Linked DNA regions of Homo sapiens. The protein of the gene in region 3 interacts with the protein of the main gene of each other region in a pairwise test. Each region holds a gene or a part of one and is shown on either strand. Other genes may lie near its edges.

Region 1 (7,027 bases), on a different chromosome or scaffold from region 3:
GGGGTGAAATGATATGGTTAGGCTTTGTGTCCCCACCCAAATTTCATCTTGAATTGTAATCCCCATAATCCCCAAATGTTAAGGGAGAGACCAGGTGTAGGTAATTGAATCATGGGGGCAGTTTCCCCAGTGCTGTTCCCAGGATAGTGAGTTCTCATGAGATCTGGTGGCTTTATAAAGGGCTCTTTCCCCCTGCGTTCTGCACTTCTCCTTCCTGCCACCATGTGAAGAAGGTGCCTTGCTTCCCCTTCACCTTCTGCCATGATTGTCAGTTTCTTGAGGCCTCCCCAGCCACACTGAACTGTGAGTCAATTAAACCTCTTTCCTTTGTAAATTAACGAGTCTTGGGCAGTTCTTTTTAGCAGAATGAAAACAGACTAATACAATAGAGTCTAGCAATAGAGTGGAGAACAACATAGTTACAAGCTCTGCCCTCAGGGAAAAGAAAACAATAATCACATAAATAATTAGAATTGTCATAAATACTCTGAAATAAAAGTAAAAAATGCTAAGAGATCCATCATATTTTCCAGTTGGAAGGCAGGGAATGTTTCTCCCAAAAAGGTTATTTAAGCCGAGTTCTGAAGATAATATGATTTAGTCAGATGAAGGCCTGGTTATATGTGTGTTGATGGAGAATGGACAGAGAGAGTTGATCTAGCCTGGAAGAGTTGGACAGGTCTGAGGATTCAAAGCAAGTCAGTAGGGCTGGTAACACATATATGAGCAGAAACTGTGTTGTATTGGGCTGCTGAGTCTGGAAAAATACATAGGATTTTGGATGCCTTTGCAGACCAAGCAGCTAAGGACCAGCACATTTCATGGTGACTTGATGGTGTGCAAATTTGGTCCCTCTGATGAATCTTCTAGTTGAAATAATTTATCACTGTGAAATTAAGTCATCAAGTATAAGATGACCAGCTGACTTTTAGCCAGGTAGACAAGCTATCGACTTGGTATGATGAAACATCACTGAGTTCATTTTTATGCCTTTGTTTCCTCTCTGTCTCAGCTGCAAGTGTCCACTGCTTGGGAAAGTGTGGGAAGCTGACTTGGAAGCTTGTCGATTGCTTATCCAGAGCCTACAGCTCCAGGAAGCCAGGGGAAGCCTGTCTGTAGAAGATGAGAGGCAGATGGATGACTTAGAGGGAGCTGCTCCTCCTATTCCCCCCAGGCTCCACTCCGAGGATAAAAGGAAGACCCCTTTGAAGGTATTGGAAGAATGGAAGACTCACCTCATCCCCTCTCTGCACTGTGCTGGAGGTGAACAGAAAGAGGTCTGTCCTTTTCACATGGCCTCCAGAGGGGACCCTTATTCTAAGGGGTGCTTTGGGACCATGCTCCAAATGGGAACAATAAATATTGGGAAGGCTTCCCATTGAGCATATAAACTTTTAAAAGTTTCAATAACTCTTGAATATGATTACAAAATAAAGTAGAATTTTTGTAGAAGTTTGAAATATAGAAGAGCAAAAAAACCCAACTTTTGGCATATTTAGTTCCATTTTCATTCTAATTTAGTGGCTAGAATTAGAATATGCAGTCTAATATAGAATTACCATATATAGCATACATTATATATGTCATATATAATATAGTTATTATATTCACTATAGATTATATATGCCATACATGATATTTAACATATATACTATACATTATGTATTGTATGTCATATATGATGTTTATATATTTAGAATCTATATATTACAATATATTATTATTTATTTGAATGAAACATTCAAATATATGTATTTATCCCATTAATTGTTTTTACCAAAACCAGATCATAATGAATGTTTATAATGTTCTTCTTTCATAAACACAACTAAAGTTTGGCCTGAGATATATGTATTACAAATTAAAATATGGTTTTATTTAACTTTCTTTTTCTCTCCCCTCTTTCCTCTCTCCCTTCCCCTTCCACTCCTCACTTTCCTCCTCCCACCCTAACAAGAGTCTTTTCCATAAAAAGGCCCTAGGAAGTTTTTCCTGATTTCAGTGCCATGACCTGAGTCTTCAGAGCTCTTTGTTGGCCCAGGTTCACAGGTGTTGTGAGTGTGGAAAGGAAATAGCATGGAGAGGCTGGAGGAACTTGACACATGGCTTTCAAGTCTCATGGTTGATGTTAGATGTTAGCTGTGCTTCCTCCCTGGGTCTTTGCCAGGACTCACCACTGGTGGGTGGGGAAATTGCCACCTCCCCAGGCCAGCCCTGCCAGTCTCACATCCCATCTGCAGGACCATGGCCTTCAGAGAGCAGACATTTGTGTTCTTAGTCACTGCCTCTGGACTGCTTAGAAAATCGATCCTTGATCCTATATTTGGATTCCATGGTCTTATAAGAAAGCAACCACTGTCACTCTGCATCCTTGCTGGCCCAGTCACAGGCTCTACGTTAATTTATAGACATCTGAACTCGTTTGTTAACCCAGGTGCTACAGGTGGAATCCTCCAGCAAAGCCTGGTCTCCAATGCTCTGGGTAGAGGTGTTGAAAAGTTACCACCTGCTGCAAGTGGATGGCTTGAAAGAATATTCTGGGGTGGAGGGAAGTGCCACCTAAGCAAGGGTTTATTCCTGGGTGGAAGAAACTGCAGGCTCTGGGAATGAGTCTTTGAAGGTGTGTCTGGCTTTCCAAAGTGAGCTACCAGGAGGAGCTCGGTGTGGGGCAGTCAGAAGCCATGCCAGGTATGTGATGGAGTCCCTGGGTCATTGATTCTGCTGGAGGCCAGGACTGATTCAGCAGAGATCCCTTTCTCCTGTAGCGGAGAAAAATGAATATCTTTCCTTTACCCATCTAAAGGTTCTCAGCTGAGGCACCTATACAGACAGAGTAACAAGAGAAAAATGTACAAATGTGCTTAATATAAAATTTACATGACACAGGAGCCTGCAAAAATGAAGACCCAAAGCAACAGAAACCAGTGTATTTTTATGCTTAAGTTTGAAGAATAGCAGACAGATGTGGAGAAGTATAATTGGACAAAAGGAGTATGATTTAATGGCAATAAACTGGGGGGAGCTTAGCAAGGCCTGTTTGCTCGGATTCTTCGCTGCATCCCTGTGTCTTCAGAGATAAGGATACTCCTTTCCTTTGGGTATAGGTTGTACACTTTAAAGATGAGGGTGTTATAATCTACTTTAGAGGAAGGTCAGATAATTATTTATGGCCTGCTTCAGGAAAGAATGGCTGCAGAAGGTCAGAGAGACTTTCCTGCTTCTGCTGTTCCTCAAATGCCAAGGTGCCATATTTTGGGGTAGTGTATTCTGAACCCCATCACTCTCTCCCTCCCTTTCTCCCTCCTTCTCTGCCCTGCCCACTGAGCCCTGAGCCCTCCAGGTTCTCTGGGGACAGACTTTCCCAGGCATAGGAGGATTCGTTTTCCTGCATAGCATTATAAGCACCTGTCAATTTCACTATCTGGCTATAAGAACACAGAGCTATATTTGTTGAAAAATAGGAAGCTTGGGGTCAAGGATGAAAAAAGAGTGGAGCCTTATCCTAGGTCCTGTGGTGGCTGCTGTTTGGGTGCTCCAGGGGTCCCCCAGAAAGCCTCCCAGATCCTCTCCACCAATTGAAATGCTGAGGATGTCCTACATTTATTTGTTGCTTTCTTGGGGGTGAGTGGGTGCTTTAGAGGGGACCTTACAGCTTTTGCTGGCTTTCAGTATCATTTCCCTGTTCCTGTATCGCAGTGCTGGATTTATTTTCACAGAGAGGGCAGCCGTTCTCTGAATTCATGAGTGCCATGGATTTTAAGACAATGTTTTCTGAGAACGGCAAAATTATGGGGCCAGAAAACAGATAAATTGTTGCCAGGAAAGGGGAAGGGACTCATTACAAGAGCAACAGGAAGGAATTTGGTGCGTGGAAGTTGGGGGCGGTTGATAGAAGTATTCTCTCTCTTGATTGTGGTGGTAGTTACGTGACTGTGTGTATGTCTAAATCCATAATTTTACATCAGAAAGAGTGAATTTTACTGTGTATGACTTTATAACAATTATTTTAAAAAGTTTTTTTAAATGTCTACCTATTTAAAAACCGGGCTATAGATGTTTGAGTCAGTGCTTTTGTCTCAGGGCTATCAAAACGCAGTGTGGCCTGCTGGAAAGAGCACAAGGCTTGAGTCTGAGTCTGCCGTGATCCTCAGTTAGGCCTCTTACAGGCCGCATCTCCACATCTGTTAAGAAAAACACCACCACGACATAAGAGGATAATGAAAACTATCTCATGAAGCTGTGATGAAGATTTAAATAAAAGGATGCATCACGAAGTGAGAGACGCATACCTAGTAGAGGCTAATTTGTGTTAACTTTTGTTTCTATCACTCTTTCTGGCAGTCACAAGCATCTCTAAAATGCTTTTTGCATGCATAATGCTAGCAACAGCTATTTGTTTGTATGACTCAGTCTCCAGGCTTAACTTTCCCTTTTGCATAAGGAGTTTGGGGGTGCTTGAGATTGTTACATTTTCCTTTACATGTATAATATACTCACTTTTTGTCAAGAAGTAGACATGAGCAATGAGTTAGTGGAAGATACCCAGTCAGAGAAAGGTTTAACGAAGGAAAACTCCCGTTTGTATTCGGGTCCAGGATTTTAGACTACAGAAGGTATGGGGAAATGATAACAAGGGCCTCATTAGGAAGGTGCTTTTGTTTTCCTGCCTGTGTTTTCCGGGAGCCATTGAAGTCTGGGTACTTTGCATTTATCCTGTGGCTAAAATGTCTATTCGCTTTGCAGCTCTGGGTTGGTTTTGCTTTAGAACTCCGTGCTGGGTCTGACCATCCTATACTGGTTTCTCTACTGAAGCTTGATGCCCTGAAGGCAGTCAATTTCTTTTTGACCCAAATCTTCCATGAAAAATTACTGACTTCTTATAGAGGTCCACAGGAAGATGAGTTTTCAAAGCCTTTCCCGTGCTTATCTGGCCAACGTGGTGATGTGCATTCTGGTGATACTTTGTTATCACAAGGGCTTTGTCGTTGATCGACACCTTCCTGGGTCTACGGTCCTTGCCAGGCTGCTGAGCACCATTCCCCCATTTTACAGCTGGGCCCATTAAGGTGAAGCAATTTGCTTTGGACTTTGTTACAGAGGAAGTCAGCAACAGGGCTCAGTGCCAATCTTAGCATGAACTTCCTCGAATTGTAAGAGCCCTTTTCTTTTCCAGTTTCATGACAGCTCTCCTCCAAGCCTTTCTGAGGACTCTGGAAACTATCAGCTGCTGTTGGCCCTGGTTCGTAGATGTTACAGAAATTGAATGGGGGCCAGACAGGAGCCAGGGAAATCAGTGAGCCAGGCTTCCTCCGCTGTGAAGTGGCTCTTTTGTACGGGCTGTTCTGGCCATAATACCTGCGTAATTTTTTTCTTTCCTGTCTGCAACCTAGCCTGCGGGGTGCTTTCTGTTTCCATTGCTTTTTCTACATAATGGGCTCCCTGGACAGTACCACTCTCCCAGACTTCTCATCCCAGCTGCTTCCTTTCTGAGCCAGTAGCTCTCACCAAAGAGGCCAAAAGAGGACCTGGCAATGTTGAGTCATTGCGTGCAGTATGTGAGTAGCCAGTGTGTGAACACAGCTGCAGTGAACGGAATTAGCAATAAGACACAACGCAACCAGGTAGCCTCATTTGTTCAGATTGAGGTCTTCAAAAAGCATTTTAAGTTTACGGGTGGAAAGGTGTGATACCTTTCCTCAGCCATCATTAAGGGCTAACACTCCTATAACAAAAACAAGTTAACGAGAAAAACATAACACATTTATTTAATCAGAGTTTTACATGGCACAGGAGGCTTCAGAAATGAAGACCCAAAGACCCAGGAAAAACTATTTTTATGCTCAGATTTAATGCAGAATAGTCAGCTATGAAGGAATGTGATTGGACAAAATGGGTATGATCTAATGGTTATAGACTGGGGGGTGAGCGGACCAGCAAGCCCTGTCTGTTCAGATTCTTCTTGGACGCTCTGCATAGTATTTATTCCTCTTGGGTATGGGGCCGGACTCCTCTAAATGGAGGGCCTTCAAGGGAGAAGGAAGAGAGTGACCTTTCTAGGTTTTATGTTTGCTTTGAGGGAGAGGAGTCCTAGTTTCTAAGACTGGCTTTGAGGAAGAGGAATTCTGGTTTCTATGGCTTGCATCCAGGGAGAAAAAGGAGTGTGAGAGGGGAGGGCAAGAGAAGGCAGAGAGATCTTGCTTCTGAGGCCTTCCAATCTCCTTTGGTTCAAAGTACTCAGGCATACCAAAGTGTCACACTTAGGGGTATCATACTGTGAGCCACAACATAAATATCTCCATTCCTTTTTACTCAATTTCACATAAAAAAAGCTGGAAAAGGTGATCCACAATGAAGATGTTTGTCCTCCTTGTCTTAAACTGATTTCTATATCTAGAAATGTCTTTATTGGGCAAAAGTGCTTCCTCTTCAGCCATAATGGGTGCAGATCTGATTCTTTCTCTTCTCTGACACTTACTGGCCCTGGGACAGCTGGAAACTCACTTTGACTCTCCAAGGAGCACATCCCTAAATGTGTGATCTCTTGATATCTCTCCCACTTTTGAAAAGAACTGACAAGGGAAAAATGTTCACTTACCCATCAGCTGGTTTTGCTCTTTTTGTTTAATGTCTTTGGGGAGAAAGCAAAGAGCTAGGACATGAAGAAAACTTCTATCTCCACTACATTTTGAAGTTTTGCAAACCCAGCCATCTTTCCCAAGAGCAGAGCAGTAGAAGCAACCAGGATGCAACCAGGGTTGGTAATTGGTTGGTTAATTAAAAAGTCAGAAAAGACAGAGAGTCATAAAAGATGATGCATGCGTATTTTAAACCTTTTTGTTTCTAGCTGAAAACATGCCCTCTCATTTGCTATTCATTCGATATAGGACCAAGTATTTCTGTTTGTAGAGCCTGCTGATTGGCTTTTCACATGACCCTCGTTGTGTAAACCTCACCTATCATGCATCATTAACAGTTTCCACTTTTGGTGTCTTTAAAGTGGGCTGGAAACGTTAAGAGCACTTGCAAA
Region 2 (7,027 bases), on a different chromosome or scaffold from region 3:
ATGAAATCTTCACAATTTATGTTCTTCTGCTGTGGCTTCAGCCGGTCCCTCCATTCAGGGTCCCTGACTTCCCGAAACTGTATGGAGATAACTTTCGAAAGAAAAGAGGGACAGATACAAAGGACAAGGGGGAGCTGTATGTCTGTGCCCCACCTTCTCACTCTTCATTCTAATCACCAAGACATACAGTATTCAAATGATGTACTGTTCCTTTAACCTTGAGAACTTCTCCCCGTGACTGATTGGAATCTGCTGGTCTCTTCATATATATCCAATTAGATAAGATTTGCAATAACAGGCCTCCTGCCTTCATCCTTTTTGCATCCCTCATGGTGTTTTACATAATAAGTATTATGGTTGTTAGTATTTTGGTTGTTACTTAAATTGAATTAAGGGCAAGCTATAATATAACTGTAATTCAGTTCCTTACACTTTTCTTGAACTTGAAGTTTTCTTGTACACATGACCTCATCCACAAGCTGTCTCCTTGCCTCCTTTTCAAGTCTCAGCTCCTTGTCCTTCTCAGCCAACTTCTTTGCCTTGTCTTCCTCTAATATTCTGTCAAATTCTTTCTCCTGAGCTTTTTCTTCCTCACGTCTCTGTGCCAAATATTTATGGTATATCTTCTGTTCTCTTATCATATCTTCCTATGTAACATAAAAATTCATATTGTTAAAATTTTTTGGTGTGATACTATAGTAAGGATACATTTAAAAAAAATCTTTAAAAGCTCCAATCCCAATCTTTTAGAACTATGTACTGAAACATTTACAGATGTATGTCTGGAGTTTATTCCAAAATACTCAAGAGTAGCGGGGGAAATGGGTAGGGATATAGAAGAGACAAGAATGGCCATCAGTTGATGGTTGTTAAAGTGAGGTGATGGACACGTGGGGACTCATTGTGCAATTCTTTGTATTTGTTTAAAATGTTTGATAATAAATGTTTGAATAAGTTAATTCAAACACTTTCCCAAAGTGTTTCTCAAAGTAGTTGCCAAATAGTTTTCAATGATACAGCTTTATTTTCATTTACTTTAATTTAGGTATATGAAATCCTAATCTGATCAACAAAATAAGTTACTTCTACTATTAGAGCACTGTCTCTCTGGCTGGTAGTCATTTTGTGCTTTATTACAGCAATTCTCAATCTTAGCTACACTTTGGAGTCACTGGGGAGCTTTACAAAGTATTGACATCTGGCTGGGCTCAGTGGCTCAAGCCTGTAATCCCAGCACTTTGGGAGGCCGAGGCGGGTGGATCACGAGGTCAGGAGACTGAGACCATCCTGGCTAACATGGTGAAACCCCGTCTCTACTAAAAATACAAAAAAATTAGCTGGACGTGGTGGTGGGCGCCTGTAGTCCCAGCTACTCGGGAGGCTGAGGCAGGAGAATGGCGTGAACCCAGGAGGCGGAGCTTGCAGTGAGCCGAGATCGTGCCACTGCACTCCAGCCTGGGCGACAGAGCGAGACTCCGTTTCAAAAAAAAAAAAACAAAAACAAAAAAAATCAAGGGCCGAGTCCCACCCCCAGAAATTCCTAATTAATGGATACCTTTTACGTTCCCCCAGGTGATAGTAATGTGCAGCTAAAGTTGAGACCTGCTGTTTATTTAGCGCAGGCATTTTTAGTTGGCTACTGCCATGTTGCAGTAACTATCCAATAGCAATGAGTTCATCCAATACCAAGGTTGTAGATATTATTAAACACCTGATATGGTTTGGCTCTGTGTCCCCATCCAAATCACATCTTGAATTGTAATTCCCATGTGTGAGGGGAGGGACCTGGTGGGAGGTGATTGGGTCATGGGGGTAGTTTCCCCCATGCTGTTCTCATGATAGTGAGTTCCCATGAGATCTGATGGTTTAAAGTGTGGCTTTCTTCATTCCCTCCCTCCTGTCGCCAAGTAAGACGTGCCTTGCTTCCCCTTCCACTGTGATTTTAAGTTTCCTGAGCCTTCCCCAGCCATGTGAAACTGTGAGTCAATTACACCTTCTTTTTTAAATAAGTTACCCAATATCAGGTAGTTCTTTATAGCAGTGTGAAAACAGATAAATACCATTTCCCACTAAAAAGAACCAACAATCCTTGGGAAAATAATCAATATAAGACTGGAGCAGAAACTGAACAGGATGAACCTGGTACATCTTATTGTGTCAGAATCAAGAAAACTATCAAAGTCTGTTGGTGGACAGTATCAAAAGAGCATGACAGCCCACTTGAAGGGACTCTCATGATCTAGAATCAGGCAATCTGAGCACCAAAAAGAAGAGTGAACTAATAATCCACTAAAAAACTATTGAAACTTGGCCAGGCATGGTGGCTCATGCCTGTAATCCCAGCACTTTCGGAGGCTGAGGTGGGCAGATCACTTGAGGTCAGGAGTTGGAAACCAGCCTGGCCAACATGGTAAAACCCCGTCTCTACTAAAAATACAAAAAAATTAGCTGGGTGTGGTGGCACAAGCCTGTAGTCCCAGCTACTTAGGAGGCTGAGGCAGGAAGATCACTTGAACCTGGGAGGCAGAGGTTGCAGTGAGCCAAGAACATGCCACTGCACTCGAGCCTGGGTGACAGAATGAGACTCTATCTCAAAAAAAAAAAAAAAAAAAAAACTATTAAAACTAATAAGGCTGGGCGCGGTGGCTCACGCCTGTAATCCCAGCACTTTGGGAGGCCGAGGCGGGTGGATCATGAGGTCAGGAGATCGAGACCATCCTGGCTAACAAGGTGAAACCCCGCCTCTACTAAAAATACAAAAAATTAGCCAGGCGCGGTGGTGGGCGCCTGTAGTCCCAGCTACTCGGGAGGCTGAGGCAGGAGAATGGCGTGAACCCAGGAAGCGGAGCTTGCAGTGAGCCGAGATTGCACCACTGCAGTCCGCAGTCCGGCCTGGGCGACAGAGCGAGACTCCGTCTCAAAAAAAAAAAAAAAAAAAAACTAATAAACGAGTTTAGCAATGTTGCAGGATACAAGACCAATATACAAAACTCCTTGTATTCCTATTTGACAGCATCAATCTAAAATGAAATTAAAAATTTTATTTCCAAATAGAAATGTTATACTTAGGAATAAATTTAACAAAGTAAGTGTTAAAATGTATACTCTGAAAACTAAGAAACATTATTGAAAGAAATTAAAGTAGACCTAAATAAATGGAAAGACAGCTTAAGTTCATGAATCAGAAAACAATACTGTGAAAATGACAGCACTTCCCAAACTGACCTACAGGTTCAACACAATCTTTACCAAAATCTCAACTGGCTTCTTTGCAGGAATTGACAAGCTGATCCATGTAACTTCCAGATACCTGGACATGCAAGGGAGCCAGAATAGCCAAAACAATTTTAAAAAGAACAAAGTTTGAGGATTTACATTTTCTCTCTCTCTTTTTTTTTTGAGATGAAGTTTCACTCTGGTTGTCCAGGTTGGAGTGCAATGGTGGAGTGTCACTCTTGTTGCTCGGGCTGGAGTGCAATGACACGATCTCAGCTCACTGCAACGTCCGCCTCCCGGATCAAGCGATTCTCCTGCCTCAGCCTCCCAAGTAGCTGGGATTACAGGCATGGGCCACCATGCCTGGCTAATTTTTGTATTTTTGGTAGAGACGGGGTTTCACCATGTTGGTCAGGCTGGTCTCAAACTCCTGACCTCAGGTGATCCTCCTGCCTCAGCCTCCCAAAGTGCTGGGATTACAGGCGTGAGCCACTGCACCAGGCCAGGATTTACATTTTCTGATTTCAAACTTACTACAAAGCTACGGTAATCAAGACATATAGATTTGTTATACTGGACTAAGGATAGAGATATAGATTGATGGAATAGAACTGAGTGTCCAGAAATAAACCTTCACTTTACTGTAATTGATTTTTGACAAGGGTGATAAGACAATTCAATAGGGGAACAATTAGAGAATTATTTCAACAAATGATGCTGGAATAACTGGATATCCACATGAGGAATAATGAATTAGGATCCTTATCTCATGCCATATACAAAACTTAAAATGGATCAAAAGCCTAAATGTAAAAGCTAAAATTATAACACTCTAACAAGAAAACAAAGAAGTACATCTTTGTGATCCTAGAGTAGGTAACCATTTTTTAGATAGGACCCCTAAAGCATAAGCAACAAAAGAAAATATAGCTAAATTGAACTTTGTCAAAATTTAAAACTTTTGTGATTCAAAGGACATCATCAAAAAAGTAAAAAGACAACCTATAGAATGAAAGAAAATAATTGCAAGTCATTTATCTGGTAAGAGACTTGAATCTAGAAAATATAAAGAACTCTTGGCCAGGCGTGGTGGCTCACGCCTGTAATCCCAGCACTTTGGGAGGCTGAGGTGGGTGGATCGCCTAAGGTCAGGAGTTCAAGACCAGCCTGGCCAACATGGTGAAACCCCGTCTCTACTAAAAATACAAAAAAATTAGCCAGGCGTGGTGGCAGGCACCTGTAATCCCAGCAACTCAGAAGGCTGAGGCAGGAGAATCGCTTGAACCTGGGAGGTGGAGGTTGCAGTGAGATGAGATTGCACCATTGCACTCCAGCCTGGGCGACAAGAGTGAGATTTAAAAAAAAAAAAAAGAACTCTTACAATTCAATAATAAAAGGACCAATAACCCAACTAAAATATGGGCAAAGGACTTGAATAGACTTCTCTAAGAATAGAGAATAGCCTTCAAATAGACTTCTCCAAGGAAGATCTACAAATGACCATAAGCACAGGAAAAGAGGCTCAATATCATTAGTCACTAGGGAAATACAAATAAAAACCATAATGAGATACCAATTCAGATGCATTAGGCTGGGTAAAATAAAAAAAACAGACAATAACAAGTGTTGGTGAGCATGTGGATAAATCAAAACCCTCATACACTGCTGGTGGGAATGTAAAATGGTTCAGCCACTTTGGAAAACAGTTTGGCAGTTCCTCAAAACTTCAACACAGAGTTACCGTATGGCCCAGTAGTACTACTTCTAGATACATGCCCCAAAGAAAAATAAAAACATATGTCCACACAAAAATGTGTACATGAATGTTCATAGTAGCATTATTCATGATAGCCAAAAAGTGGAAATAACCCAAATGTCCATCAACTGACATAATGCATAAACAAAATGTGGCATATCCATACAATGGAATATCATTCAGCCACATAAACAAATAAAATAGTGATTCATGCTACAATGTGGATAAATCTTGAAAACATTATGCTAAGTGAAAGAAGACAGTCAACAGGTCACATAACATGTGATTCCATTCATATCAAAGTCCAGAATGGGGAAATCTATAGAGACACAAAGTTGATAAGTGGCTGCTTAGGACTGGAGGCAGGAGGTGGGGAAGAAGGGATAGCAGGATAGTGAAAATGTTCTAAAATAAAATGTGATGACAGCTGCACATATCTGTGAAAACAGTAAAATCCACTGAATTGTATGGTTTAAACTGGGGAACTGGATGTTATGTGAATTCTCTCTTGAAGCTGTTAAAAAAATGATTTAAATGTGAACAAAAAACTCAACAGGAAAAAGAAATCAAATAAGCAAGTCAATTAGATAATGGACAAAAACCAGGAGTTGGAGGCTGCAGTGAGCTATGATCATGCCACTGTACTCCAGCCTAAGTGACAGAGTGAGATACTGGCTCAACAAAAATTAAAAAAAAAAAAAAAAACAGAAAATGGGCAAAAGACATGAAGAGACATTTCATTGAAGAAGACATACAGATAGAAAACAGGCTCATAAAAAGTTGTTCAAAATCATTAGCCATTAGGGAAATGTAAATTAAACCACAATGAGATGTTACTACACATCTATCAGAATGGTTAAAAGTGAACAATAGTGATAGCACCAAATGCTGGTGAGGATGTGGAGAAACTGGATTGCTCATGTATTGCTGGTGGGAATGTAACATGGTATGGCTACTCTGAAAAACAGTTTAGCAGTTTCTTTAAAAAACTAAACATGCAATTACTATATGACATAGCAATTGCTCTTCTAGGCATTTATCTCATAGAAATGATGATTTGTGCCAGGTGTGGTGGCTCATGCCTGTAATCCAAGCACTTTGGGAGGCTAAGGTGGGTGGGTCACTTGAGGTTGGGAGTTTGAGACCAGCCTGGCCAACATGGTGATATCCCATCTCTACTAAAAATAGAAAAAATTAGCCAGGCATGGTGGCACACACCTGTAATCCTAGCTACTCAGGGGGCTGTGGCAGGAGAATCACTTGAACCCGGGAGGTGGAGGTTACAGTGAGCCGAGACCATGCCACTGCACTCCAGCCTGGGTGACAGAGCAAGACTCCGCCTAAAAAAAAAAAAAAAAAAAAGTGAGAATGTGTTCACAGAAAAACCTGTACTCAAATGATTATAGCAGCTTTACTCATAATAGCCATAACCTGGAAACAACTCAAATGTCCTTCAACAGGTAAATGGCTAAACAAACTGTGGTAAATCTATACCATGAACACTACTCAAGAATAAATTGGGAGGCCGAGGCAGGTTGATTACCTGAGGTCAGGAGTTTGAGACCAGCCTGGCCAACGTGGCGAAACGCTGTCTCTACTAAAAACACAAAAATTAGCCAGACGCAGTGGCACCCGCCTGTAATCCCAGCTACTCGGGAGGCTGAGACAGGAAAAGCGCTTGAACCCATGAGGCGGAGGTTGCAGTGAGCCGAGATCACGCCACTGCACTCCAGCCTGGGCAACAAGAGCAAAATTCTATCTCAAAAAAAAAAAAAAAAAAAAGAATAAAAAGAAGGCTGGGTGCAGTGGCTCATGCCTGTAAACACAACACTTTGGGAGGCCAAGGCAGGAGGATTACTTGAGCCCAGGAGTTCAAGACCAGCCTGGGCAGCATAGTGAGACCCCATCTCTACAAAAAATAAGAAAACTAGCTGAGCATGGTGGCTTGTGCCTGTAATCCCAACTACTCAGGAGGTTGAGGCTGAAGTATCAGTTGAGCCTGGGAAGTTGAGGCTGCAGGGAGCTGAGACCACACCACTGCACTCCAGCCTGAGT
Region 3 (7,027 bases):
AGGGGTTCTCAGATTTTTGGGTTGAGAGAAGCTGGAGCTGTAGGTTCTTCCTTTCCCCTTACCCTGGCTGGAACAGCCGAGCTCTCCTTTTCCCGCAAGATCTCCCGGTAGCTGAAGGAGGAGATGCTACTGCTGTCCCCTGTCTGGGTCCGGCTTGGTGAGTTCATCTCTGAGAGAACCAGCTCCTCAAGGCCTGGGTGGTGGAGGGAAGAGAAACTTGAGCCCCAATACCCCTGAGTCCCAGGGCAGCAACCAGCAGGAAGAGGCAGAAATAGATTTAACAGAGATGGAAAGAGAGACACCTGGGCATGGGGAAAGGCAGAAGCAGACAGGAGGACAGGGAGAGACAGAGACAGAAAAAAGAGCTGAGGCTGGGCGCACTGGCTCACACCTGTAATCCCAGCACTTTGGGAGGCTGAGGTGGGCTGATCACTTGATGTCAGGAGTTCGAGAACAGCCTGGCCAACATGAAGAAACCCCGTCTCTACTAAAAATACAAAAATTAGCCAGGTGTGGTTGTGTGTGCCTGTAATTCCAGCGATTCAGGAGGCTGAGGCAGGAGAATCGCTTGAACCCAAGGAGGCGGAGGTTACAGTGAGCCGAAATCGCACCATTGCACTCCAGCCTGGGTGACAGAGTGAGACTCTTGTCTCAAAAAAAAAAAAAAAAAAAACAGAAAGAAAAGAAAGAGCTGCCTTTCTGGAGAAACACATACAAAATGAGAGGGAGAAAATGGAAGAGGTTGGAGAAAGAGAACGACATGGGTACACATGGGTCTCAAGTGGCAGACACACTTGGACACAGGGTTCAGAGAAAGGAAGACAGCTAGAGAGGGCACAGGGCACATCCACTTGCAGAAAGAAAATGCCAGAGATGGAAAGCCAGAGCAGATGATAGAAACTGAGACCCTGGTGAAAGAAGTGAGCCAGAGCAGAGACAGAGAGAAAAAAAGATGCCGGGCGCGGTGGCTCACGCCTGTAATCCCAGCACTTTGGGAGGCCGAGGCGGGCAGATCACGAGGTCAGGAGATCGAGACCATCCTGGCTAAAACGGTGAAACCCCGTCTCTACTAAAAATACAAAAAATTAGGTGGGCGTGGTGGCGGGTGCCTGTAGTCCCAGCTACTTGGGAGGCTGAGGCAGGAGAATGGTGTGAACCCGGGAGGCGGAGGTTGCAGTGAGCCGAGATCGCGCCACTGCACTCCAGCCTGGGCGACAGAGCGAGACTCCGTCTAACAAAAAAAAAAAAAAAAAAAAAAAAGAAATGCAAGCAGGCTCTCGTACCCACGCACCTAAATCTCAGTTTAATCTAATGGACAAGGTGAATGTATTGAATGTATGGTATACGATTGTAACGTTTCCCAAGATTATTATTATTATTATTTTTTAGACAGAGTTTCAGTCTTGTCGCCCAGGCTGGAGTACAATGGCGCAATCTCGGCTCACTGCAACCCCTGCCTCCTGGGTTCAGGCAATTCTCCTGACTCAGCCTCCCGAAGTAGCTGGGATTACAGGCGCCCGCCACCACACCCAGCTAATTTTTTGTATTTTCAGTTGAGACGGGGTTTCACCGTGTTGGCCAGGCTGGTCTTGAACCCCTGACCTCAGGTGATCCACCCACCTTGGCCTCCCAAAGTGCTGGGATTACACCTTTCCCAAGATTCTTACATTCATCTGTGATAAAACAGAAACAAAACTCCTTTTTAAAGAAAGGTTACTTCAGGAGACCGAGTGCCTCAGAGAGAAATTGATTTGGTGAGAGATACACATCTGTTTTGCCACATCACTTAAAGCCCTCGAGGATCTCTGGCAAGGGTGGGGTGACTGAGTGGGGATCCGTAGGTATCCCGAGTGGGGGAATAAGGGACCAAGTTTTCTCTGAGTCTGTAATCTAAGAGATGCACCAGAGCCATCACTGCATTTTACTTACTTAAATGTATTTATAGGCCATCCCCGTCTTAAAAAAGGCTGAAGCAACTAAAGTTGTGTGTGTGTGTGTGTGTGTGTGTGTGTGTGTGTGTGTGTCTTCTGCTTGAAGTGGCAGAAATAACAGATTGGATTAGCTGTATAATGAAAACACCACAGCGTTGCTGACTATGTATAAGTCTGTCTCCGTAGCTCAACTGGGGGCTTCTAGAGGGCAGAGACTCAGGGAGTTTTATATCAGGGACCCTGTACTTGAGCAGGGAGATTTATAGAATGAGAGATTGTATACAATAGATTTAGAAATGCCAAGTGAGGTGTGGGAGTGTGTAATGTAGTACATACAGTGAGGAGACAGACAGAGATATAAACAGAAGAGACGAAGAGGACACAGAGTGGCGGGAAGAGATAAAGGGACAGAGAAAAGAAAGGGCGGGGGCCGGGCCCAGTGGCTCATGCCTATAATCCCAACACTTTGGGAGGCTGAGGCGGGCGGATCACCTGAGGTCGGGAGTTCGGGACCAGCCTGACCAACATGGAGAAACCCCGTCTCTACTAAAAATACAAAATTAGCTGGGCGTGGTGGTGCATGCCTGTAATCCCAGCTACTCAGGAGGCTGAGGCAGGAGAATTGCTTGAATCCAGGAGGCAGAGGTTGCGGTGAGCCGAGATCACACCATTGCACTCCAGCCTGGGCAACAAGAGCGAAACTCTGTCTCAAAAAAAAAAAAAGAGAGAGAAAAGGAGAAAACTAGAGAAAGAAAGCAAGGAGATAAAGGCAAACATAGAGGAAAGAGAGAGAACAAACTGAGACAGAGGCAGAGACAGAAACAGAGAAGAGACAGGGCAAAAACGAGAGAAAGATAGAAATAAAGAGAGAATGCAGAGAAAGAATCAGAGGAGAGACAGAGAAAAGGTAAAAGATGGAGTTCCAGAGCGACAGAAGCAGGAAAGCACAGCTGAGGAAGATGCAGGACTAACCTGCAGCCTGCAGGCCCAGGCCCTACCTCCCCCATGCCTCAGCCTCCTCTCCCTGTCCTAGTCCCTCACCTGAGCGGCTCTTGCTGTTAGTGAGGATGTCCTGCAGTCGCTCCTGCAGCTTATCTGCCCGTTTCCGCTCCAAATGCAGCTGCCGCTTGAGGTCCTTGAGCTGTGGGGGACAGGGGTAACATGAGGACTGAGGCCCAGTGGGCCCATAGGAGGGAGGCTACAGGTAGGAGGGAGCCGTGCTTGGGCACCGCTCTGTCTTACCGCAGCACTGCCCTTCTTCTCCAGGATCCTCTGCCCATCCACTGTGTCCTTCACCTCCTGTGGGAGAAAGCAGGCATGGCTGGTAGATGCCGGAAGGGCTGCCTGAAGCATGCTCCCTCCCTGCCCCTCCTGTACGCTGAGGATCAGGGGTGTGTCTGGGGCTGTGCAGTGACCACTGACCTGCTTCAGGCTGCTAATGGTCTTCAGGTGGCAGTCCCGCTCCTCCTGGGCCTGCTCGAGCTGATCCCGTACATCCTGTAGCTCCTCCTCCTTGCCCTGCAAAGCAGAAAGCAGCTTAGGCATTGGCTTGGGAAGCCTCTGTCCTCCCAGGAGGGCCCGTCACTGTCTGGAGAGAGGAACACCATCATGCGAGAGGCACCTTCAGCTCGGCAGCGTGCTGCTCCCGACACTGCTTGAGGGCTTCCTCTTGTTCCTGCTGCTGCTGCTGCAGGGATTCCTACAAGACAAGTCCCAGGTCTGGCCACAGCCCCCCAGAAGGTATCATGCCCAGTTAGGGGTATGAGGGACTGCAATGGGGGCCCAGAGGTATGCAGAAATGACCCTCCTGCAGGGAACCCCACACGCCCTTAGGCAATATGCTGAAGTGTCACATCTAAAGTTGCACCATTCGCATGGTTGACTTAGATTTGCATTTACATTTTATTTTATTTAACAAAACATAGCGCTTACTACATGCCAAGAATGTTCTAAGGGTTTTACATATATTAACTCATTTTCTATAATCCTCCCGTAATACCTAGATGGTAGATATTATTGTTACCCCCTTTTTACCATTGATGAAAACAGGCCACAGAGAGGTCAGATAACTTGCCCAAGGTCACACAGCTAGGAAATGGCCCAGCCAGGATTCAAACCTAGACAAACAACTGGCTCCAGCCTGTGCTCTTCACTGCTACATGACAATGCCTTTCAGTGTATTATGAGATTTCCAGAAAATGGCAACAAAGGTTCTTTTTCCGAGACAGAGTCTCACTCCGTCACCCAGGCTGGAGTACAGTACACGATATCAGCTCACTGCGACCTCTGCCTCCTGGGTTCAAGTGATTCTTCTGCCTCAGCCTCCTGAGTAGCTGGAATTACAGGCGCCAGCCACCATGCCCGGCTAATTTTTGTATTTTTAGTAGAGACAGGGTTTCACCATGTTGGCCAGGCTGGTCTTGAACTCCTGACCTCAAGTGATCCGCCCACCTCGGCCTTCCAAAGTGCTGAGATTACAGGCGTGAGCCACCGCACCCAGCAGGTTCTTGTTCAATAACATCAGTGTATTGCATTAATTTCCTGACAGAAGTACAGTTTCAGGAGAAAGAGGTGCCTTTCCAAATTTGCACAAAGGCAGGGCAGCCTTAACACGTGACAGTCTGTCCTATCTGATGGCCATCCCCTGATCCACTCCAGAGGGCTGCTATTGAGCCAGGGGACTGTGGGGATATCCCTAAGTCCAGAAAATCTCGGGAAGTTCCAGGGCCTGACCACTCCTGCTTCTGTGGTTTGACATGAGGGCCCCAATCAGCCTCTGTTCCTCACCAGGCATCACCAACTCACCTCGGCTTCCTTCAAGCGCCGTTCAAACCAGCCCTTGGCTCCATCCATGGAATGTACCTGAGCTTGAAGTTCTTCCACTGTCTGCTGGAGAGTCTCCAGCTCCCGTGTCCGGGCCTGGGATGGGGCAGACTGTCATGGGCCAGGAAGGCAGAGGAGCGGGCACCTGATGCATGCCACCCACTGGCCTATCAGCAACGCTGTGGTTCCCAGGTTTTAGAGGAAGAAGGGCATCATCATCTACCCACCCACCTTCTCCTCCCGGATCTGCCCACGGAGCTCCTCCTCCTGACGCTTCTTGTCTTCATGCAGCTCTCGGAGCTCACGCTCATAGCGGGCACGCACCCCCAGCACCTCCTTCTCATGCCGTAGACGAACTGCTCCCAGCTCTTCCTTGTGCTGGGACTTCTCTTGCAGCGTTTCCATTGCTAGCTCATCCAGCATGGCCTTCCGCTTCTCCGCACTCTGGGGGCCAGGACGATGGCAGTCAACTTCCTTCCACAACATCGAAAAAAGGCCTCCAACCCTCTTCCCATGCCCAAGGAACTAGCCAAACTCCACTCCCTCCCATCCCCACTGAACTGGCTAAGGCACTCACCCATCCTTATAGAACTGGTCACTTTCTTTCTTTCCCCTCCCACTCTCATGGATTTGGCCAAGAAACTGGTCAACCAGAAACCAGTCAATTTTCCTTTCCCTCCTATCCCCACATGTTTGGTTATATCACCTCCTCCCATCCCCATGGACTGAGCCAATTCCTACCCCCCATCCTCTCCCTTCAACCCTCATGTTCCCCTACCTTCCGAGCCTCCTGTAATTCCTGGGTCAACTGCTCCTTCTCCTGCCCTATTTCTTGAAGTTGTTCCAGCAGTCGACTATTGGCCCGTAATGACTCCTAATGCAGACACCAAAGGGAAAGAGTTTGATAAAGAGCATCCAGTAGGTGCTAGTCACCCAGGACCATCTGGTAGACCATCTCCCTTCTCCCTGGTAAAGTTGGTATTGTGATCTCAATTTCTGGATAGGAAATATAGCAGAGACTGCTAGTTGCTCCCCAGTATTCATTCTTCCTTACTTCCCTAGCAATAAAATTTATCATCGGGCATACAGCTGTCTAGCAGATGTTTCCCCTCCTCCCTTATGGTTAGGTGTGGCCATGTGATTTATTTCTGTATGTGGAAGTGGTGAGTGTAATTTAGGTTATGCTCTTAAAGGAAAGGGGCACACTCTTCCCTGCCCCTTTCCTCCTTCCTTCCAGATAGAATACAAACATGATGGTCGGGGAGTTTCAGCAACCGTCTTGGATGCCAAGATAAAAGTCTTGTGTTGAAGGTGGAGGAACAGCAATGGAGAAAGAACCTGGGTCACAGATGACTGGAAAGCCATCATTCCATCCCTGAATAACCTACCTGGACTTTTAATGAGAGGGAACTAAATTTGTATCTTATTTAATCTACTATTATTCTGGTTTCTATTATGGAATCAGAATGGATATTGCTTGGGAGGCTGAGCCGGGTAGATCTCCTGAGGTCAGGAGTTTGAGAAGCCTGACCAACATGGTAAAACCCCGTCTCTACTAAAAATACAAAATTAGCTGGGCGTGGTGCCAGGCGCCTGTAATCCCAGCTACTCCGGAGGCTGAGGCAGGAGAATCGCTTGAACCCAGGAGGCGGAGGTTGCAGTGAGCTGAGATCGCGCTACTGCACTCCAGCCTGGGCAACAGAGTGAGACTCCATCTCAAAAAAAAAAAAAAAAAAAAAAAAGGAGCCGGGCGTGGTGGCTCACGCCTGTAATACCAGCACTTCGGGAGGCCGAGGCGGGCAGATCACGAGGTCAGGAGATCGAAACCATCCTGGTTAACACGGTGAAACCCCGTCTCTACTAAAAATACAAAAAATTAGCTGGGCATGGTGGCAGGCGCCTATAGTCCCAGCTACTCGGGAGGCTGAGGCAGGAGAATGGCGAGAACACGGGAGGCGGAGCTTGCAGTGAGCCGAGATCACGCCACTGCACTCCAGACTAGGTGACAGAGCAAGACTCCATCTCAAAAAAAAATTAAATTAAATTAAAATTTAAAAAATGAAAAAGAATTGATATCCTAACTAACTGAAGAGGCTCAGTTTCAGAGAAGTGAAATGACTTGTCCCAGAACACACAGGTGCTAATAAGTTAGGGAGCCAGACTGGAACCTAGGTCCTCCTGACTCCAGTCTTCCCACTCCACCTTACTGGGGACTTCACTGGGCCATTACTAGGGAACTAGGAAGAGACAGGCCAGAGCCAAAGGTGTTACCT
Region 4 (7,027 bases), on a different chromosome or scaffold from region 3:
GGGGAGAATAATAAGACTGAGGGTTCTTCCTTGGGTCCTTCCTGGCAACTCGCTATGACTATTCTAGATAAACGATCATAATAAATTAAATGCATGGACTTTGGAAGCAGGAAGAGCTGAGTTTAAAACTCAGCTTGGCTACCGCACGAACTTGAATGAGTTATCCTGCAACTTACTCAGATTCTCATCAGTAAAACAGGGATTATACTTGAAAGTTATAAGGAACAGGACTTAGCCCAGATGTCCCCTCCTCTGAGAGGTCTCCCCTGACCATCTACATCTCTGTTGTCCCAACTCCTGCTCTCATAATTTTGCTTTTATAAAGCTATTGCCATCATGAAGCTTTTTTTCTATACTGAAATTATCTTTTCCTTTATAAATTTCTTTGTATATTCTCTAGCTTCCCCCAATTGGAGGGCAAGATCCCCAGGGATCATCCCCATCCTATTCACCTCCAGGTCCAGGTAGTAGAACAGCATCTGACACATAGTAGGAACTCAAGAAATAACTGCCGTGTAAACGAATAAATGTAAACATATAAAGCACGTGGTATGTAAAAAGCACTTGTTTAGTGGCAGATATCATTGTTACCATTGTTACCGTTGTTGGTGGTGCTATAAATTCTATTTCTTGGGAAAGAAACTCTTTTTTGAGCGGGTGCTGGACTCCAAACAGCCCAGAATGAGTCTGCCTCAGGAGAAGAGGCTAAAACACTGCTTAGCCATTGTGTTTCCAGGCTTACAAATCAAAATCCATCCATATCTGGTTTCTTTCAAGCCCTGGACCCCTTGTTCTGTGATAACTGGTAAGTTGCTTGTTTCCCAGTTAATATAAATTTTCCATAGTCTGGTTATTCAGGGTAAAGACACACTATTCCCTCGTATCCCTGTGGTGCCTAACAGTTTCAGCACACTTTCTCAGCCCTCCTCTGACACAATCCTTTCCACACACCTGGAACATATGATTGCCCCCATTTTATAGATTAGAAAGTGGAGGGCAGAGATTTGAGCAGCCTGCCCAAGTTTACGCGGCCGAATAAGAATTAGACCTAGAGACTTGAACTTCAATCAGTCTGACTCCAAAAACTCACATTCTTACCCGGAGAGTAAGGTTTATCTCTAGAGCTTGCCCGGGGCTAAATAACTAGCGTGGGGCAAGGCTGCAACCAGAACCCAAGTCACTTGCCCTTACTCCGCTGTTCCATCCACAGTCTCAAATCTAATCCCAAGGGGGAAAACAAGAAGAAGCACTCAGCAGTGTACCCAACTTTCTAATAAAGGAAAATAGCCAAAGGCAATTCTGATATAAAACGCATTTATGGCTTTTCATTTTGGCATTTCTTCTGTACCAAATGGCACCGTGCACATAGAATAGATTTGACTCTTCTCTACAGCATCATCTTGGCCCAGAAGCTATTCATATCTCTCTGGGGTATAAAAGAGAGGCTCCTAAATACATAAAAAAAATTCCAAGGATCTGATAAATTGAAGTGATTTAAAGTAAGCCCTGTGCAGTTTATATAGAGATATTTATATGCCACTGCTCTCACTTACACAAGCCATTTTTCCCCTATAGAAGACCTTGACCCTCTGTCTCATTTTTGTATCTCCCATGTCACAAGGTTTCATGGGTTTTTCATGATCCAGTAAAGCATTACGGAAGTTTCTTTCAAATTCATTACAAATAGAATGGCTGCTGCCAACTCTGTTTTTATCTCATTCTGCCCTTCGTAACTATTTTCATTAAAAGCAATAACTGTATTCTACCCACCTTAATATCTAAACTATATAATTTCCATAGAAATGGCTTAGATGTGGCTTTAAGAAGAAAGCTCAGGGGTGATTTTAGAGTATTCCTTCAGTTCTGAAAGCACTCAAGTAATTAAGACCAGTGATCTTAATTTTTATACTAACAGAAACTGCAGAATGCTGGCCTTTTTTTTTTTTTCTTCAAACCCACCTTAGTGTCTAGCAGTGTTGTGGAAACATGAGGCCTTTCCTTAATCATAAATGGACACTACAGCTTTTCAATTAAATTAGTCTTTGGAGAGAGATGCAAAAGAGCTAAAAAGCTCCTTAAAAAAATCTTCCCTGCTTCACCGCTTCTCATTTGCCAAGAAGAGATGTTTAGCTAAAACGCAATGCTGTTGTCTTCTTATCCTGCCGCAACAAAGTTCTCTTGATCTTGAACCCTGAGCTAGCTATCTTACGAAGATCCTTGAGGTTTTTCTTTTGGTTTGCATGCCCACATTTGGTTTTCTGAAACAATTTTTTAAAAAGTGTTGTGTAATATAGTGTCTTACATCTGTGTGTCCAGAGAGAGTTTCATTAGTCCCTGCTTCAGGCTGGGGTAGCAGGTAGGAGGATATTGAAATTGTTTTTTAAATGACACAGGTAGAAAGAGAGCTCTCATTTAGATGAGCAGAATTCAAGACAAATGCTTTCAAATATGATCCAGGTATTTCTTCCCCCCATGTAATTTCTCTAAGCTCATTATCTCTAAAACTTTTGCATTGTGCGTTTTCCTGTTGTTATGCATAGCTAAATAATACTGATATATTAATAATCGGATTATCTTGCTGTGCCTCCTGAATTTTAATTTCTAAAATTGTAAATAATTTTAGCATGACTTTAGCATCCCAGAATATTTGAGGGTGCCCAGAGGATGTCTTTTTCTACAGGGGAAACGTAAAAAATTGAGGGAGGCAACAACTGAAAATTCCAAATGGCCATTTTAATGACTTTCAAATGCCTCCAAATTATTGAATCATTTCATTCATGGAGTTTGCTTTGGAAACAAATATATCAGCAATTCCCACTCGCATCTCAGATTTCTCTTCTGTGTCTCTGTGTATGTATATAATGTCTTTGAACGGACCTCAGTCTGATACCCTTGGACAAAATAATTTCTCGGACAAAATGAGCAATATGGATACGGCCACACTGCTGGAGACGCTCCCCATTCATGTGCAAGTTAAAGTTGAAACTATGTGTTTGCAGAGGTGCTTTCTCATTAGTTTGCAGACCTAGACTAGCAGTGAACCGTTGGGCTCTGAAGTCTCTAATTTTTATTACAATGTCTTAAAATCTGATGTATCTTGAAATCCACTTTAAATGCTATCTCTAAACGTTCTTCTCAGAAAAAGTTCCCAAAACAAGTGAATGAAAGGTCAGTAGGAGGAAAAAAAAAAGAAATTATAAATCCAGTGAAAATAGTGTTACATGTTAGAGGCATGTAAATAGATGGTGTTTTTTTCTTACTGTAATATTCAGGTAAGCAAGCAAGTACTCTCCACTTTCTTATGTGGTTAGAATGACTAACTTCCTCCTATAATCGAAGAGCTGCTTGCCAAAGATCACCCTAAGGAATGTGAGAATTTCTAACTTTAAATAGAACTTGTAAAACTTAAAAAAAAAATTAAAAATACCAATTGTTACAAATTACTGAAAAATGAATGTAAAAACCTATTCTGGGGTAAGCAGACTCTATAAAGATAGAAGGATAAGCTCTCCCTGATTACAGACTACAGTAAAAGATAGTCTGTATTTATCACAACATTAGAAAATTAAAATAAATTTCTCTCAAAGAAATAAAAATATAAAAGCGTTCTCAACTTGTGAAGCAATAAAATTATTTGTGCGCCAGGCTTCTTTTAATACCACTGTGATTTTTTTAATAAAAGTCGTTCAGTTTGATTGTAATTAAATATGTAATGAAAAACCACTGCTTCAGGGAAGCGATGCAAGACACTATTTAACTGTTAGTTAAATGTATTTCCAACTGACTTTGCATCAAACGAAAATGATACTCCGTGTATGCCTGGTCTTAATATAGAATTTGTTCGGCAATTTCTGTGTTTTTTTAAAGGGGACCTAGGTAGAAGCAGGCATTGCCTTCGAAATAGTGGCTGAGTCTTCCCAGACCATGACATTCCCAAATAAAATTGATAGTATAAATACAGTGATGGAAGGGAAGGTCGACTTTGGACATTTACCTCGTGTCAGCTAATTACAGGCATAGCACAAACGTGACCAGGGCCTAGGTTTTCTTCTTGGTTGACTTGATAAGCTCAGCTGCAGTGATGAACAGTGAGGCATCATTTCAATGGCTTTAAAAAATGCCAGGCTCAGTCTGTGCCCCCACCCCCATGACCAAAACCCATTCAATGGACAGCACAATTCCCAAGGCCCTGGGAAAAGAAACAGATCAACTCAGGTATTATCCTTTGGAGAAATTCCGTCAAATGAATGAGAAATCAGCTGGGATGAAATGAAAGCATAAACGTCCGTTGGAGACTATGACAAAAGTCAAGCTGCTTCAGGGACCGACCTCCTAAAAATACTTGGGAGGTATTTCTTGGGTGTTAAGCATTCCCAAAGTGTAGCAGTAGAATGGGCAACTGGGAGATAAAGAAATGTAAAGTGGAAGAAAAAAATGTAGACTGTTTCTGAGGAATGTTTCTCCCCTCCCCAAAAGTAATCTTCAGCATCCAAACTCTTAAGCCTCAGAGAAGATTTTCATTGTCAAGAAGTTTCCCGGAGCCCCTGCTCCCTTACAGAGTTTCCACTAAACTCTCTGTCACTTGTAATCTGCTGATTAGGGTTAACGTATTGTGTCCTGATATGGCAGATTAAAAATGAAATCAATAAATGCCTAAAACAAATGGGCTTTTGAGATGTCCTATTCAGTCTGAGTCTTTAAGGGTGAGGTGAGAGGTGGAAGAAGGAAATCAAGACGGGGGTGGGAAAAGGACCACTTAAGCAATCAATTTCCGTCCAAAATGTTGTGTGGACCAAGCGATTTCAAGGAATCTATCCTTCCTTTTTCAGATATCTGCCTTAAGTAACAAGAATGGCCAAAAGAGTTTGTGCTGCTAAGACCCTTTGGACTTTATTGTGTCCATGCGTGTGTGTGTGTGTGTGTGTGTGTGTGTGTGTGTGTGTGTGTGTGTGTATTTTTCCATTCATTTGTTAAAAACATACTTTTGGGCAAGTGAAGGAATCCATCGCGTGAGATATTTAAATATTCAAGATGTGAACTTGTCTTTCTGAAGGATGTTTAAACAAAGTGAGGGAGGAAGGGTCCCAAATCTACCCGATTCCTAGTCTCTTGAAAGCTGTCCCACTTGACAGTAAATTAAAGGTAAACTTCGCCCTGAGCTGCCTGCCCCCTCCCTCCATCCTGTTGGTTGAGATTTCTGGGACCTCACCGGTTAATTCAGAGTCATCACTATCAAGAGGTGGAAAAGAGATCTCTGAGGTCATTTCTGCTCTGTTGCAGTGTTCAGAGTTGTCCCTGTTGACTATGTTTCCCATGTAAATAACCTGTGTTATTAAGGTGCAAATTGCAACTTTTAAGTAATGATTGCTAATAGTCTAATGTTTACTGCCACACAAGGACATTCATGAAAACAAAATCTGCATTATTCATCTCCATATTAAATAAACAAAATAAATTGAGGGAGCTGTTCTTTCTTGCAAGACTCTTCAGATCTGGGTGATCAGAAAGCCTTTAAGAGTCAGCAAGAGGGAAACATCTAATTGCTTTGGGTGGGCAGGGGCAGAATCCTATAACTTACATATATAAAAGATATATTCACAAGATGTGCTCACAAAAGATTGTGTGTTCTATTGCAATTGGCTGTCATTAATATAAAAGCAGTTCAGTATGGTGAAATAAAATACGTATTATTTATGTGCGCGCACAGAGGCTGAGATAGGCTGTAGAAAATCAAGAGTTAGATTCTAAGTCTACAATTTTAAATTTTTAACCACTCTGCATCCTGCAAAATGCAAACAAATCAAAACACCGTTCTGTTTTACTTTCCTGCCATTTTCTCTATCTCCCTTGAAATGCATAGAAGGGGAAAATGCTGGTACTGAATCCTGCAATATTTTCAGGTAATAGTGGATGTATTTTAATGGTGAGTGAAATATACATCCAAGGAAGCAAGCATGCACACACAACACAAACCCCTGGGGTACTGTAGGCTGCTTTCTCAACTTTTTTTTTCTTGCCCTAAGTAATAGTATGGTGGAATAGCATAGCTTAAGAAAGCCAGGAAGAATGACATTTCAGAGGGAAATACTCTGATTTAGCTGTTTCCTTAAAGAGAATTGTCCCCTCACATCCCTTCCCCCTGAAGGGGGAGGAACATAACAAATAAAGACTAAAATTCCTCATCACTTACAATATCATCTTGTTTATTCTGTTTAGATACCTGCTTTAGTAGAAAGTTCTGTAATTGATTCCTTGAAACATGGAACTTATAACTAATAATACAAAGGAATCAAATTGCCTGGAACAGTTCTTGGGAAAAAGAGCGCTCCGGGAGAGCCTCAGCTCGGATCCACTCACAGGCTTTTTCTATCTCCCATTATTCATTAATCAAGCTAGAAATCAAGCTTTCAACATCAGTCCTTGGGTGTAATTACTTACAGTTGTGCATTGTGTTTAATTTTAAGCAGTGATAAAAGTTAGTATGGCCATAATCTTAGAACCCACCTTCTCCCCTTCCCTGGATGTTAACTGACTACAGAACCCCAAAGTGGCTAACTTTACTTGTGAATAACCACTTCAGCTGAAATAGAGTAGGGCATTGATGACCTTAGATGAACAGAAGAAACACTGCATGAAAAACTGTCTCCTCTATTAATATGTGAGCAAATAAATAAGGTAAGAGGGCCCTCACTGTGTACGAAATGAATCATCCTTTTTCAGCTTAAAAAGGGTTTCCGCTTCTGGTGAAAATAATAAGAATCATACAAAACAAACATACAAAGACAGTAGGAATATAATAGGCCAGAAAACTGAAACTATAGTTACAAGTTTCTAACACACACACACACACACCCCCACACACCCACACACACCAATAAACTAGCCAGCACCAACAGACACAGCTTAATGAAAAGGACCTGATTTAAATAATGTGATACAGTGTTATGTTACGTACACCTGGATCCTTATCGATCGTAGGATAATTATAATCAAAGTCGAGCAATTCTGAGCAATGCACTTTTTGTAA

What was found.
Region 1: the proteins of GRIPAP1 (region 3) and DISC1 interact in binary tests that used the Homo sapiens proteins (3 or more experiments, as listed by UniProt).
Region 2: the proteins of GRIPAP1 (region 3) and CFAP53 interact in binary tests that used the Homo sapiens proteins (3 or more experiments, as listed by UniProt).
Region 4: the proteins of GRIPAP1 (region 3) and TSHZ2 interact in binary tests that used the Homo sapiens proteins (3 or more experiments, as listed by UniProt).

The regions. Positions count from the first base shown.
Region 1 is NC_000001.11:232,007,773-232,014,799, forward strand, and holds part of DISC1 (disrupted in schizophrenia 1 protein), read left to right. Parts: intron 1-1,012; coding exon 1,013-1,277; coding exon of another isoform or gene 1,278-1,382; exon of another isoform or gene 1,383-1,882; intron 1,883-7,027. UniProt on the Homo sapiens protein: Involved in the regulation of multiple aspects of embryonic and adult neurogenesis. Required for neural progenitor proliferation in the ventrical/subventrical zone during embryonic brain development and in the adult dentate gyrus of the hippocampus.
Region 2 is NC_000018.10:50,242,470-50,249,496, forward strand, and holds part of CFAP53 (cilia- and flagella-associated protein 53), read right to left. Parts: intron 648-7,027; coding exon 431-647; intron 1-430. UniProt on the Homo sapiens protein: Microtubule inner protein (MIP) part of the dynein-decorated doublet microtubules (DMTs) in cilia axoneme, which is required for motile cilia beating.
Region 3 is NC_000023.11:48,978,243-48,985,269, forward strand, and holds part of GRIPAP1 (GRIP1-associated protein 1), read right to left. Parts: coding exon 7,026-7,027; intron 5,629-7,025; coding exon 5,533-5,628; intron 5,199-5,532; coding exon 4,986-5,198; intron 4,851-4,985; coding exon 4,737-4,850; intron 3,631-4,736; coding exon 3,553-3,630; intron 3,450-3,552; coding exon 3,354-3,449; intron 3,231-3,353; coding exon 3,174-3,230; intron 3,073-3,173; coding exon 2,973-3,072; intron 194-2,972; coding exon 63-193; intron 1-62. UniProt on the Homo sapiens protein: Regulates the endosomal recycling back to the neuronal plasma membrane, possibly by connecting early and late recycling endosomal domains and promoting segregation of recycling endosomes from early endosomal membranes.
Region 4 is NC_000020.11:52,975,348-52,982,374, reverse strand, and holds part of TSHZ2 (teashirt homolog 2), read right to left. Parts: intron 1-7,027. UniProt on the Homo sapiens protein: Probable transcriptional regulator involved in developmental processes. May act as a transcriptional repressor.